2 linked regions of the Homo sapiens genome follow. The protein of the gene in region 1 interacts with the protein of each later gene in a pairwise test. Each region holds a gene or a part of one and is shown in the gene's direction. Other genes may lie near its edges.

Region 1 (3,759 bases):
TCCCAGCTTCTCTTAACCAGGGCCTCTCACTCCTGCTCCATGAGGTAAGGATGAGCACTGCTTTCCTTCTTGGCTACGAAACCATTAATGCTCTCCTGCCTTCATTAAAGTGATTTTTCCCCATTCCTCTCATCAGTTTTTTTGAGGGGGCTCCAACTTAACTACCTAACTACTTGCCATCTAAGCTGTACTGAGTCACATTCCTAAGTTCCTGGTCCCCCAAATCTCCTCCCCATCTAGAACAGAGAGGTCCCTTCTGAGAGAGTGGAACACTGTACACTCATCTGAAAACTCACAAGCACAGCTCCTTATTCCCACCTTTGCCCCAAATTAGCCTCTATTTCTCCCTCTTTTACAAATCATCTACTCTTCAGGGTTCTTATTCCTACCCTCCACAGCTCCATGAACTTCTTTCTTCTTTTCCATCCTTTCTGTTCAGGCCTGTCCTGTCCTAGTCACTCATCCTTCATGCTCTATTTTCCTTCAGCTCTTATGCCAGAACCCCCTCCATCGTCTACGTTATCTGCATCACTTCCAGGTCCACCCTTTCTTTCGGGGTGTGGCCTTCGACCCAGAGCTCCTACAGAAGCAGCCAGTGAACTTTGTCACGGAGACACAAGCTACCCAGCCCAGTTCAGCGGAGACCATGCCCTTTGACGACTTTGACTGTGATCTGGAGTCCTTCTTGCTCTACCCTATCCCTGCTTGAGCCTCTCTACTGTAAATTGGGGCCCGGCTGGGAGCCTGAAGATCTCCATCCCTGCCTACTCAGTATGACCACCTTGATAATCCAGTTTGTTTTTATTTTGTAGCCTCTTACCGTTCTGCTCTCCTAGGCTTTAGACCAGAGTTCCAACCTGGACATTCTGCTACTGGCAGCCACAGCTGGCCCTATTCCTTCCCTATCATACAACCTACCTCTCAATTCAACATGTCAGATCAGGGTGGTGACCTTTTCCTTTTCTTTACTTCTCCAGTGCTCTTTACCCTCAGGCTGTCAGCCAGAGCTGCTTCTGCTTGTTTCTCTGCCATGTTTCCTTTCTTGAGCAATAATAATACTTCATGGGCTCCCAGGGTGCTATTGATGTGTTTAATAGGCTTGTCAGAAGCAATATGAATTTTTTTTTTTTTTTTGAGACAGAGTCTCACTCTGTTGCCCAGGCTGGAGTGCAGTGGTGCGTTCTCAGCTCACTGCAACCTCCGTCTCCTGGGTTGAAGTGATTTTCATGCCTCAGCCTCCCGAGTAGCTGGGATTACAAATGCACACCATTATGCCCAGCTAATTTTTGTATTTTTTAGTAGAGACAGGGTTCACCATGTTGGCCAGGCTGATCTCAAACTCCTGACCTCAAGTGATCGGCCTGCCTTGGCCTCCCAAAGTGCTGGAATTACAGGTAGGTGTGAGCCACTGCACCAGACCCTTTTTTTTTTTTTTTTTTTTTTTTTTTGAGATAGGGTCTCACTCTCGTCACCCAGGTTGGAGTGCAGTGGCACGATCTCAGCTCACTGCAACCTTCACAGGCATGAGCCTCCACACCCAGCCTGTGAATTTTTCAAAAGTCTCAAAAGCTGGCATTTCAACCCCTAAATAATGCAGCTAAAAAATATAGTCTGGGAGCTTGAGGCCAGTCTGCAATAAATCTAATTTTTAAAAATTGAAAAGTGAATAAAATAATCTAGTGAGGAAGAAAATAGAAACTGAAACATGGGTGGGTTAAATGTCTTCTCTAGGTCTATAATTGCAACAGTTATCCAAAATAAAACCTCTTTGAAAAGCATAGGATTTTTAAACTGACAATTTCTCCTAGTGAGCCCATGATTCAGTTTCTGATGGGCAAACCAAGAGATTAAGAGGCATGCATCAACCTTAAGATTTAAGGTTATTTGGGAGGCCAAGGTGGGCAGATCAGTTGAGGTCAAGAGTTCGAGACCAGCGTGGCCAACATGGTGAAACCTTGTGTCTACTAAAAAAATACAAAAATTAGCTGGGTGTGGTGTTGCACACCTGTAGTCCCAGCTACTCAGAAGGCTGAAGCAGGAGAACTGCTTGAACCCTGGAGGCCAAGGTTGCAGTGAGCCAAGATTGTGCCATTGAACTCCTGGGTGACAGAGGTAGACTCTGTCTCAAAAAAAAAAAAAAAAAAAAAAAAAAAAGATTTAAGGTTAGAGACATATCTCAATAACCTTTTCCTTTAGTAAGGAAAATCATCTGGACCTTAAATTTGTATACAGTTTTGGCCTTTATGACTTCTTTTCATTTTTCTTAAACTAATTTCTCACAATTTTCATTTTTGTCCTGAGACTTGAAGGGAAAGTAAGTTTTAATCTAGACCATATTATTTAGTTACATCTAATCTCTCTAGACAAAAGACAGTCTGGAGAGTACTCTTTAGTTCTATTTATTAATTTTGTCTCTAGATTGAGCCAGATTTCCCCATGCATAGCTGGCATTTTATTGGCCTCTGCAGAATTGCTTTTTCTGGATTGGACTTTGGTAATCCATATGAAAATCTCTATGAAATTTAATTGCTCGCCAGGTGTGGTGGCTCACACTTGTAATCCCAGCACTTTGGGAGGCTGAGGTGGGCGGATCACCAGAGGTCAGGAGTTCGAGACCAGCCTGGCCAACATGGTGAAACCCCGTTTCTCCCCAAAAAATACAAAAATTAGCTGGTCATGAGGGCACACACTGTAGTCCCAGCTACTCAGGAGGCTGAGGGGGAAGAATTGCTTGAACCCAGGAGATGGAGGTTGCAATGAGTGAAGATCGTGCCACTGCATCCAGCCTGAGCAACAGAGTGAGATCTTGTCTCAGGAAAAAAATAAATTTAATTGCTGTGGATACTGTAAAGGGTGTTTATCGTAACAGTTCATAATATTCTATTTAAGAATGCGTGGGAGAAATTTTCTCTGGACCCAGTTATGCTTTTCCTGAATTGCTGTTTGGTTTTTACCTTAAGGACACTAAATATTCAGCTGATTGTATTTTTCTGTTTGTACTGATACTAGACCATTTAGAGCCCAATTTGTGGTCTACCTTCAGCAAGTGTTTATGTATTTTGTATGCTAGTCATGTTCTTGGTTCTGTCTTCCTTTTCTACTTTTATTTTCCTTATTCTCATTTTTCTAAGTTTTAATCGTTTTATATTACTATAATATCTGCATCTTGTAAGCCTTTTTGTAATAAGGTTGGGATATAAATAAATAAGGCAATGTATCCTTTATCCTTTTATCTCATTTGTTTCTCTTTAGACACTTTTATTACTTTTTAAAAATTGTGATGACCAGAACTGCACACTGGATAAAAACTCTGAATACTAAAAATAGGAATTAATGGTTTCCAAAATAGTAGTTAAGAGCATTTGTTTGGAATTTAGGAGATCTGATGCCTGGATCCACCAATAACTATCTCATCGTCTTTTTTTTTTTTTTTTTTTTGGTGGGGATGGAGTCTTGCTCTGTTGCCCAGGTTGGAGTGCAGTGGCGCAATCTCGGCTCACTGTAGCCTCTGCCTCCCAGGTTCTAGCAATTCTCCTGCCTCAGCCTCGTGGGTAGCTGGGATTACAGGTGCATGCTACCACGCCCGGCTAATTTTTGTATTTTGAGTAGAGACGGGGTTTCGCCATGTTGGCCAGGCTGGTGTGGAACTCCTGACCTCAGATGATCCACCCGCCTTGGCCTCCCAAAGTGCTGAGATTACAGGCGTGAGCCACCACGCCCAGGCTCTCATCTTCTTTAATAAGTCATTTTAACCTCTCT
Region 2 (7,036 bases), on another chromosome or scaffold:
GCCAAGGCAGGAGGATCACTTGAGCTCAGAAGTTTGAGACCAGCCTGGCCAACATATTGAGTCCCCATCTCTACAAAAAATACAAAAATAGCTGAGTGTGGTGGTGCACACCTGTAGTCCCAGCTACTCCAGAGGCTGAGGCAGGAGGATGGGCTTGAGCCCAGAAGATCGAGGCTGCAGTAAGCCATCATCGTCCCATTGCACTCCCGCCAGGGTGACAGAGCCAGACTATGTCTCATAAAATAATAATACTAATAAAATAATAGAAATAACTTAAACCATGGGTGAAAAATTGAATTGTTCTGGGAAAAATCAAGATGTATAGTTATCAAAGTGATAAGATAATGTGCTTTTTAAACTTTACTAGATAATACCAAGTGGTTTCTCAACATGGATGTTCAAAGGTATACCTCTTTCAGCTCTGTTGCTTATTTTTCTAATGGATCATTTAGTGTGCTTTTATTAATTTGTAGGGATTCTTTATGTATTCTTCGTGTTAATCCTTTCTCAGTTACATTTGTTTGTTTCACTTTTTTTAGGTTTTTAATGATAGAACTTTCCATTTTAATATAGCAGATGTATCCATTTTCCCTTTATGGTTTGTACTGATTATGCCTAGTTTAAGAGGCTTTGCCTACTCTGAAAATATATTCTCTTATATTTTCTTCTGAAAGTTTTGAAGTTTTGCCTTTCACAGTTAATTTTTGATCCCCCACCCCCGCCCCGCCCGAGACGGAGTCTTTCTCTGTCACCCAGGCTGGAATGTCGTGCCTCAATCTTGGCTCACTACAACCTCTGCCTCCTGGGTTCAAGCGATTCTCCTGCCTCAGCCTCCCGAGTAGCAGAGTAGCTGGGATTACAGGTGCCCGCCACCACACCTGGCTAATTTTTGTATTTTTAGTAGAGACGGGGTTTTACCATGTCGGCCAGGCTCATCTTGAACTCCTGACCTCGTGATACGCCCGCCCCGGCCTCCGAAAGTGCTGGGATTACAGGCGTGAGCCACCGCACCCGGCCTTCACAGTTAAGTTTTTAACGTCCCTGAGATTGATACTGTGTCTGTGGTGAGACAAGATTCCAAGTTTATTTTTTCCCAGCTGCATGATTTGTCTACACATCACTCAAGGAAAATCGTCTCTTCCTTTGATGTGTGCTACATATTCCCTTGTGATAGTTCAGTCTTGTTTTTTTTTTTTTTTTTTTTTTTTTTTTTTTTTTTTTTTTTGAGATGAAGTTTCGCTGCTGTTGCCCAGGCTGGAGCACAGTGGTGCGATCTCGGCTCACTGCAACCTCCGCCTCCTGGGTTCAAGTGATTTTCCTGCCTCAGTATCCCAAGTAGCTGGGATTACAGGCGCCCTCCACCACACCTGGCTAATTTTTGTATATTTAGTAGAGACAGTGTTTCACCATGTTGACCAGGCTGGTCTTGAACTTCTGACCTCAGGTGATCCACCCTCCTCGGCCTCCCAAATTGCTAGGATTACAGGCCTGAACCACCGTGCCTGGCCCAATATTTCAGTCTTTATACCATAGATTTTTGATGTATTCTACATAAATAATCATACACGAAGAATGAAGGTTTGTATTTTTTTCTTTTCAGTTTTTATTGTAGCTTTTAGTTATTTTTCTTGCCTTAATCCTGCCCGAGGACTCCAGTATTAGGCAGCATAAAAATGTTGAAGAGGACATCTTTATCTTTTTTCTACTTTTAAAGAGAATGCTTTAAACGTTTCACTGTTAATTTGAGGTTTCCTTTAGGTTTTTGGTAGATACCTTTGATTGCATTAAGGAAGTTACTTTCTGTTGCTAGTTTGCTGACAGGTTTTATCTTGAGCAGATGCTGAATTTTATTAGATACTTTCTTGTGCATCTATTGAGATAGTCATGTACTTTTATTTAATCTATCGCATTAAACCAACAGTACATTTCTGGGATTACCTGAGTTTGGTAGAAAATAAATACATTGCTGATTCAGTTAGCTAATATTTCAAGATTTTTGCATGTGTGTTCATGAGTGAGATGATAGCTTCCCTTTTAGTATGGCCTTGTCAAATTTTGGTCTCAAGGTTATATTAGCCTTATAAAGTGAATTGGGTCATGTGTCTTTTTTCTTCTCTGCAAGAATTTTTGTACTGTAGGAATTATCTGTACGGAATCTTTGGTAGAATTCACTGGTAAACCCTCTGGACCCTATATTTTCTTTGTAGGAAGACTTAACTACTGGTTATACTTTTTTTATGGTTATAGAACTATCTCGTCATATATACATGGTTATTACTAGTGTCTGCTTTGCATTTGAACCTTACATTGGAATAAGATTAGAGTAAGGAAACCCTTGAAGTGAAGAAGCTATTTTGCTACAAATTATATGTCCATTCTCACAAAATCTTATGTATATAATTTATATAGATGTAGCTTTATAATATATGTATGTCTTCCCATTCATAAAAGCATCATCTAAATCACGTTTTATATCATTTTTATTTGAGCATTCCTCTTGATTTTCTAGAGAAGAAACCCTCAGATCCTTACTTACAAGCATTTTCCTGCATCTAGATTTTATTTGTGTGAAAGCAAAAGTGATCATCCTTGCCCTAAATTATTAGGGCTTTTTATTACTTTGGTATTTACTTAAGAATAAAATTTATTTTTTTATTTTCTTCTCTTCTCAAAAGTGGTTTGCAGGTATTAATGAAAATTTTGGACATTCCCATTTTATCAGTTCTCCTTAATTTACAATTTATAAAGTTTTTAAGCTTTATAATTTAGAAGCATTTTACCTTAATTTTTATTATTTTGGTGGTTTTTCTAGGCGATGTTTTTTGTTATTATATCTCTGATAAACAGATTTCCCTAAATCTTACAGGTTTAAAGCAGCTTCATCTTCACAATAGTAAGAATTGTTTCTTTAAAAAGTTTCTTCACAAAGGCAATAAAACTTTTAAAATCTGTGAGATTGAATCAGAATTAGCTTTAGAACCTAGAATTTTGTTAGGGCTGAGGGTAGATGAGACGGAGGGAAGATCCCTTTCTCTCATCATTAGCTTATATCGAAATCAATTCTTATTTCTAAAATAAAATACGCAGACCACGCTAGTGCCTTCAAGTCCTGCTGGGAGACTTCAGAGGGGGCACTGCCTCATGCTGCCTGTTTGCTCCTTGTGCCCGGCCTCTATCCCTGCACAGGAAGGACCCGAAGGAGCAGCCTTACCATGCACAGGGGGCTCCCCCTTTGGGGTTCTAGGGCAATTTGTTCTTCGGGCTCCCGGTGAAACATGGCAGGAAAAAAAACGTTTTACTCCTTTTCATTGGATTTTTTATTCATTTATACTTAACAATTATTGGATGAATGTATAAGGGAATTAGTAGCTGACCAGGCTGAACCGGAAACTTCTTCAAAATGTATAACTTGGATTATGTACTTTAAAATAATGTTTTGGGAAGGCTGACTCATTGGGAATACTATGATGGAAGTGTTGACAGTGAGAAAAGGGTAGTCTTATCTAGAGATCAGCTAAGTGTCATTTTTTAAGTAAAAAAGGTACGTGTTGTTTTATTCTGAAAAAAATCCCTTATCTTTTATCATAGTCTCTTAGATTTCCTTAACTTGAATTTGTTCACTATGAGAGTAAAACTACATAAAGTAAAAGTTTTTCAAGAAAAAGAACAAATACTTTTTTACAGTTTGAGCTCTTTGTCTCATTCTTTGGCTGGTCCTGGTTTCCCCACTCACTAGCGGTGTGATTTCGGCTTACATAGCCTCCCAAGGCCTCAGTGTCCTCATCTGCGAAACGAAGACAGTGATAGCAGCTGTCTCGAGGGGTGTTCTGAGAATCACACAGGCATATGTATATATAGCCAGGGGCATAGTATGTGCGGATAAATGTTAGCTAGTTGTGTTGTCAGCTTCAGCCATCAGTGCTTAGTGAGTGTGCTGTTTTCTTACTGTTTAAATTTTTCATGTCATTCGCACTGTATCAGATTTCCAGAGTCAGGCAGATAATATGAGCTGGGGCGTGGGGCGGGGGTAGGGGCGGACGGCATGGGGAAGTCAAGAGACTATTACAAATTGAAGAGTCTTGGGAGGGCTTCATGGAAGAGGAGGGACTTAGCTGACTCTCAGAATGAAGTAGTGTTTATATGGCTGGAACCTCACACCTACTGGAATGGCTACTATGAAATAAAAACAAAATAACAAGTGTTGGCAAGGATGTGAATTCCAAGGCTTGTGCACTGTTGGTGGGAATGACAAACGGTTCAGCCACTATGAAAAACAGTTTTTTGGTGCCTCAAAAAAATTAAAAATAGAATTACCATATAATCCAGCAGTTCCTTCTAGGTATTTACCCAAAATGATTGAAAGCAGGGTCTCAAAGAGCTGTTTGTACAGCCACGTTCATTGCAGCAGCATCCACAATAGCTAAAAGATGGGAGCAACCCACGTGTTCAACAACAGATAGCTGGATAAACAAAATGTAGTGTATGCATACCATGGAATATTTTTCATCCATAAAAAGGAAGGAAACTCTGACCAAGCTGTAGCATAAATAGCCCTTGAGGACTTTATACTGAGTAAAATCAGCCAGTCACAGGAAGACAGTTATCGGGTGATTCCACTTATTTTATAGTAGAATGGTGGATGCTCTAGGCGGGGGAGATGGGTATACGGGGGAATGTTTAATGGGGATGGAATTTTAGTTTTGCAAGATAAAAAGTGTTCTGGAGATTGGTTGCACAGAAATGTAGATGTACTTAACACTACTGAACTTAAGGTGGTCAATTTTATGTGTATTTTACCATAATCAAAAGCACATGGATAAGAAGCTGGAGAAATGGAAGTCTGCGTCATTTGAATCTATAAGCAATACTCATTTTTCGGTTGAGGTGAATGAAGATCACGCTCAGGGGCCTTCTCTCTGTCTTTGCTTTCAGGGTCATGGAGGACGCTGGCGGCGGCGAGGAGACCCCGGCCCCGGAGGCCCCGCACCCCCCTCAGCTCGCGCCTCCGGAGGAGCAGGGGTTGCTCTTCCAGGAGGAAACCATCGATCTTGGCGGAGATGAGTTTGGATCCGAAGAGAACGAGACCGCATCGGAAGGCTCGAGTCCTCTCGCGGACAAGCTGAACGAACACATGATGGAGAGCGTCCTCATCTCTGACTCCCCCAACAGCGAGGGCGACGCGGGCGACCTGGGCCGAGTGCGGGACGAAGCTGAGCCCGGAGGGGAAGGCGACCCAGGCCCGGAGCCCGCGGGCACCCCGAGTCCCAGCGGCGAGGCCGACGGCGACTGTGCCCCCGAGGACGCGGCACCCAGTAGCGGAGGGGCCCCGAGGCAGGACGCGGCCCGCGAGGTCCCAGGCAGCGAAGCCGCGCGCCCGGAGCAGGAGCCTCCCGTTGCGGAGCCGGTCCCGGTGTGCACCATCTTCAGCCAGCGCGCGCCCCCAGCCTCCGGGGACGGCTTCGAGCCGCAGATGGTGAAGTCGCCCAGCTTCGGTGGCGCCAGCGAGGCCTCGGCCAGGACACCGCCCCAGGTCGTGCAGCCCAGCCCCAGCCTCAGCACGTTCTTCGGAGACACGGCCGCCAGCCACTCCTTGGCCTCGGACTTCTTCGACTCCTTTACTACCTCCGCCTTCATTTCCGTCAGCAATCCCGGCGCGGGCTCCCCGGCCCCCGCCAGCCCGCCTCCCCTCGCTGTGCCCGGGACCGAGGGGCGCCCCGAACCCGTGGCCATGCGAGGGCCCCAGGCAGCTGCGCCCCCGGCGTCGCCAGAGCCTTTCGCGCACATCCAGGCAGTGTTTGCAGGGAGTGACGACCCCTTTGCCACCGCCCTGAGCATGAGCGAGATGGACCGGAGGAACGACGCCTGGCTTCCCGGCGAGGCTACGCGTGGAGTCCTGCGGGCCGTGGCCACCCAGCAGCGCGGCGCCGTGTTCGTGGACAAGGAGAACCTCACCATGCCGGGCCTCAGGTTCGACAACATCCAGGTGAGCCCGGGTCTCCCACCTCCGCAGCCCGTGCCTCCTCTCTGCGTCTGTGAGATACGCACAGTGCCCCTTTAGGGATGGAGAAGGAGAAGGCCTTGTTTTCAGTAATTCCTAACATCCCATTGTGAGCGCCTGTGTTCCTCTGTCCCTGGGTAATTAGGGATCTGTTGGTTTCCCCAACAGAACATATTTAATGGACTGCTACTCAGAGAGGTAGAAATAAATACCACCAAGGCAGACAGTTCTACCGTAATTCTCTCAGTCAGTTCTCCATGTCCTGTAATCCATTTGACATTTGAACTCCAGTTAATAATAAATCCATTTCTTTCTTTAAAATATGGAAAAATATATTCCTGTAACATATAATGTGCCCGATGTAGAATTTTTATAGGTTGAATAAGAAAAATACGCGTGACCCAAAAAGTAACAAATCACAGAAATATATAAATGTTAAGCTAAATGGTAACATACAAATGTTCGATCTCACTACTAATGAAAGACAATTGATGCAGGGTTTTTTTCGGTGCCGCTTTGCCAGCTGGAGACCTCCGTGGTCGGCGATGCCCCTGCCCAGGCCTCTCTCGGCCCAGGTTCGCCCACTAGGCCTGCCGGGCCGCACCTGGCTTGCGCTTTGGCATATCCCGTGGCCTCGGTGACTGTGCTCTCAGCCCCCAGCAGGTGGGTTGTGCGAGCAACTGAGTGTAGGGGTCCGGGGGCTGCTCCAACCGCCAGCATAGGAGCAGGCTTCACACGGGGCTTGTAGCTGGACCAGGCGTGTGGCAAGTGACTCCCACAGTGGACTCCTGCGTCCAGGCGAGGGGAACACCGTGGCGCCCGAAGAGCAACAACCGCGACCCCGAAGCCCGAGAGGGGATGTTACAGCGTGCACACAGCTCTTTTCGACCCGCATCTGCTGCCGGACTAACGGGCATCTTAACGGCTCTAAACGGGCGCATTAACAGACCACTGCTTCCCGTTGAGTGGGGCAGCCGAAGGGGGTGGGGGATGGAGGGTTACAGTGTTATTGCTGTCTTGGTACCTGCACTCCGCGGA

What was found. The genes of interacting proteins can lie anywhere in the genome.
Region 2: the proteins of RSKR (region 1) and TRAPPC12 interact in binary tests that used the Homo sapiens proteins (3 or more experiments, as listed by UniProt).

The regions. Positions count from the first base shown.
Region 1 is NC_000017.11:28,607,428-28,611,186, reverse strand, and holds the end of RSKR (ribosomal protein S6 kinase-related protein), read left to right. Parts: coding exon 1-44; intron 45-487; coding exon 488-709; 3' UTR 710-3,224; downstream 3,225-3,759.
Region 2 is NC_000002.12:3,382,688-3,389,723, forward strand, and holds part of TRAPPC12 (trafficking protein particle complex subunit 12), read left to right. Parts: intron 1-4,932; 5' UTR 4,933-4,936; coding exon 4,937-5,983; intron 5,984-6,998; exon of another isoform or gene 6,999-7,036. UniProt on the Homo sapiens protein: Component of the TRAPP complex, which is involved in endoplasmic reticulum to Golgi apparatus trafficking at a very early stage.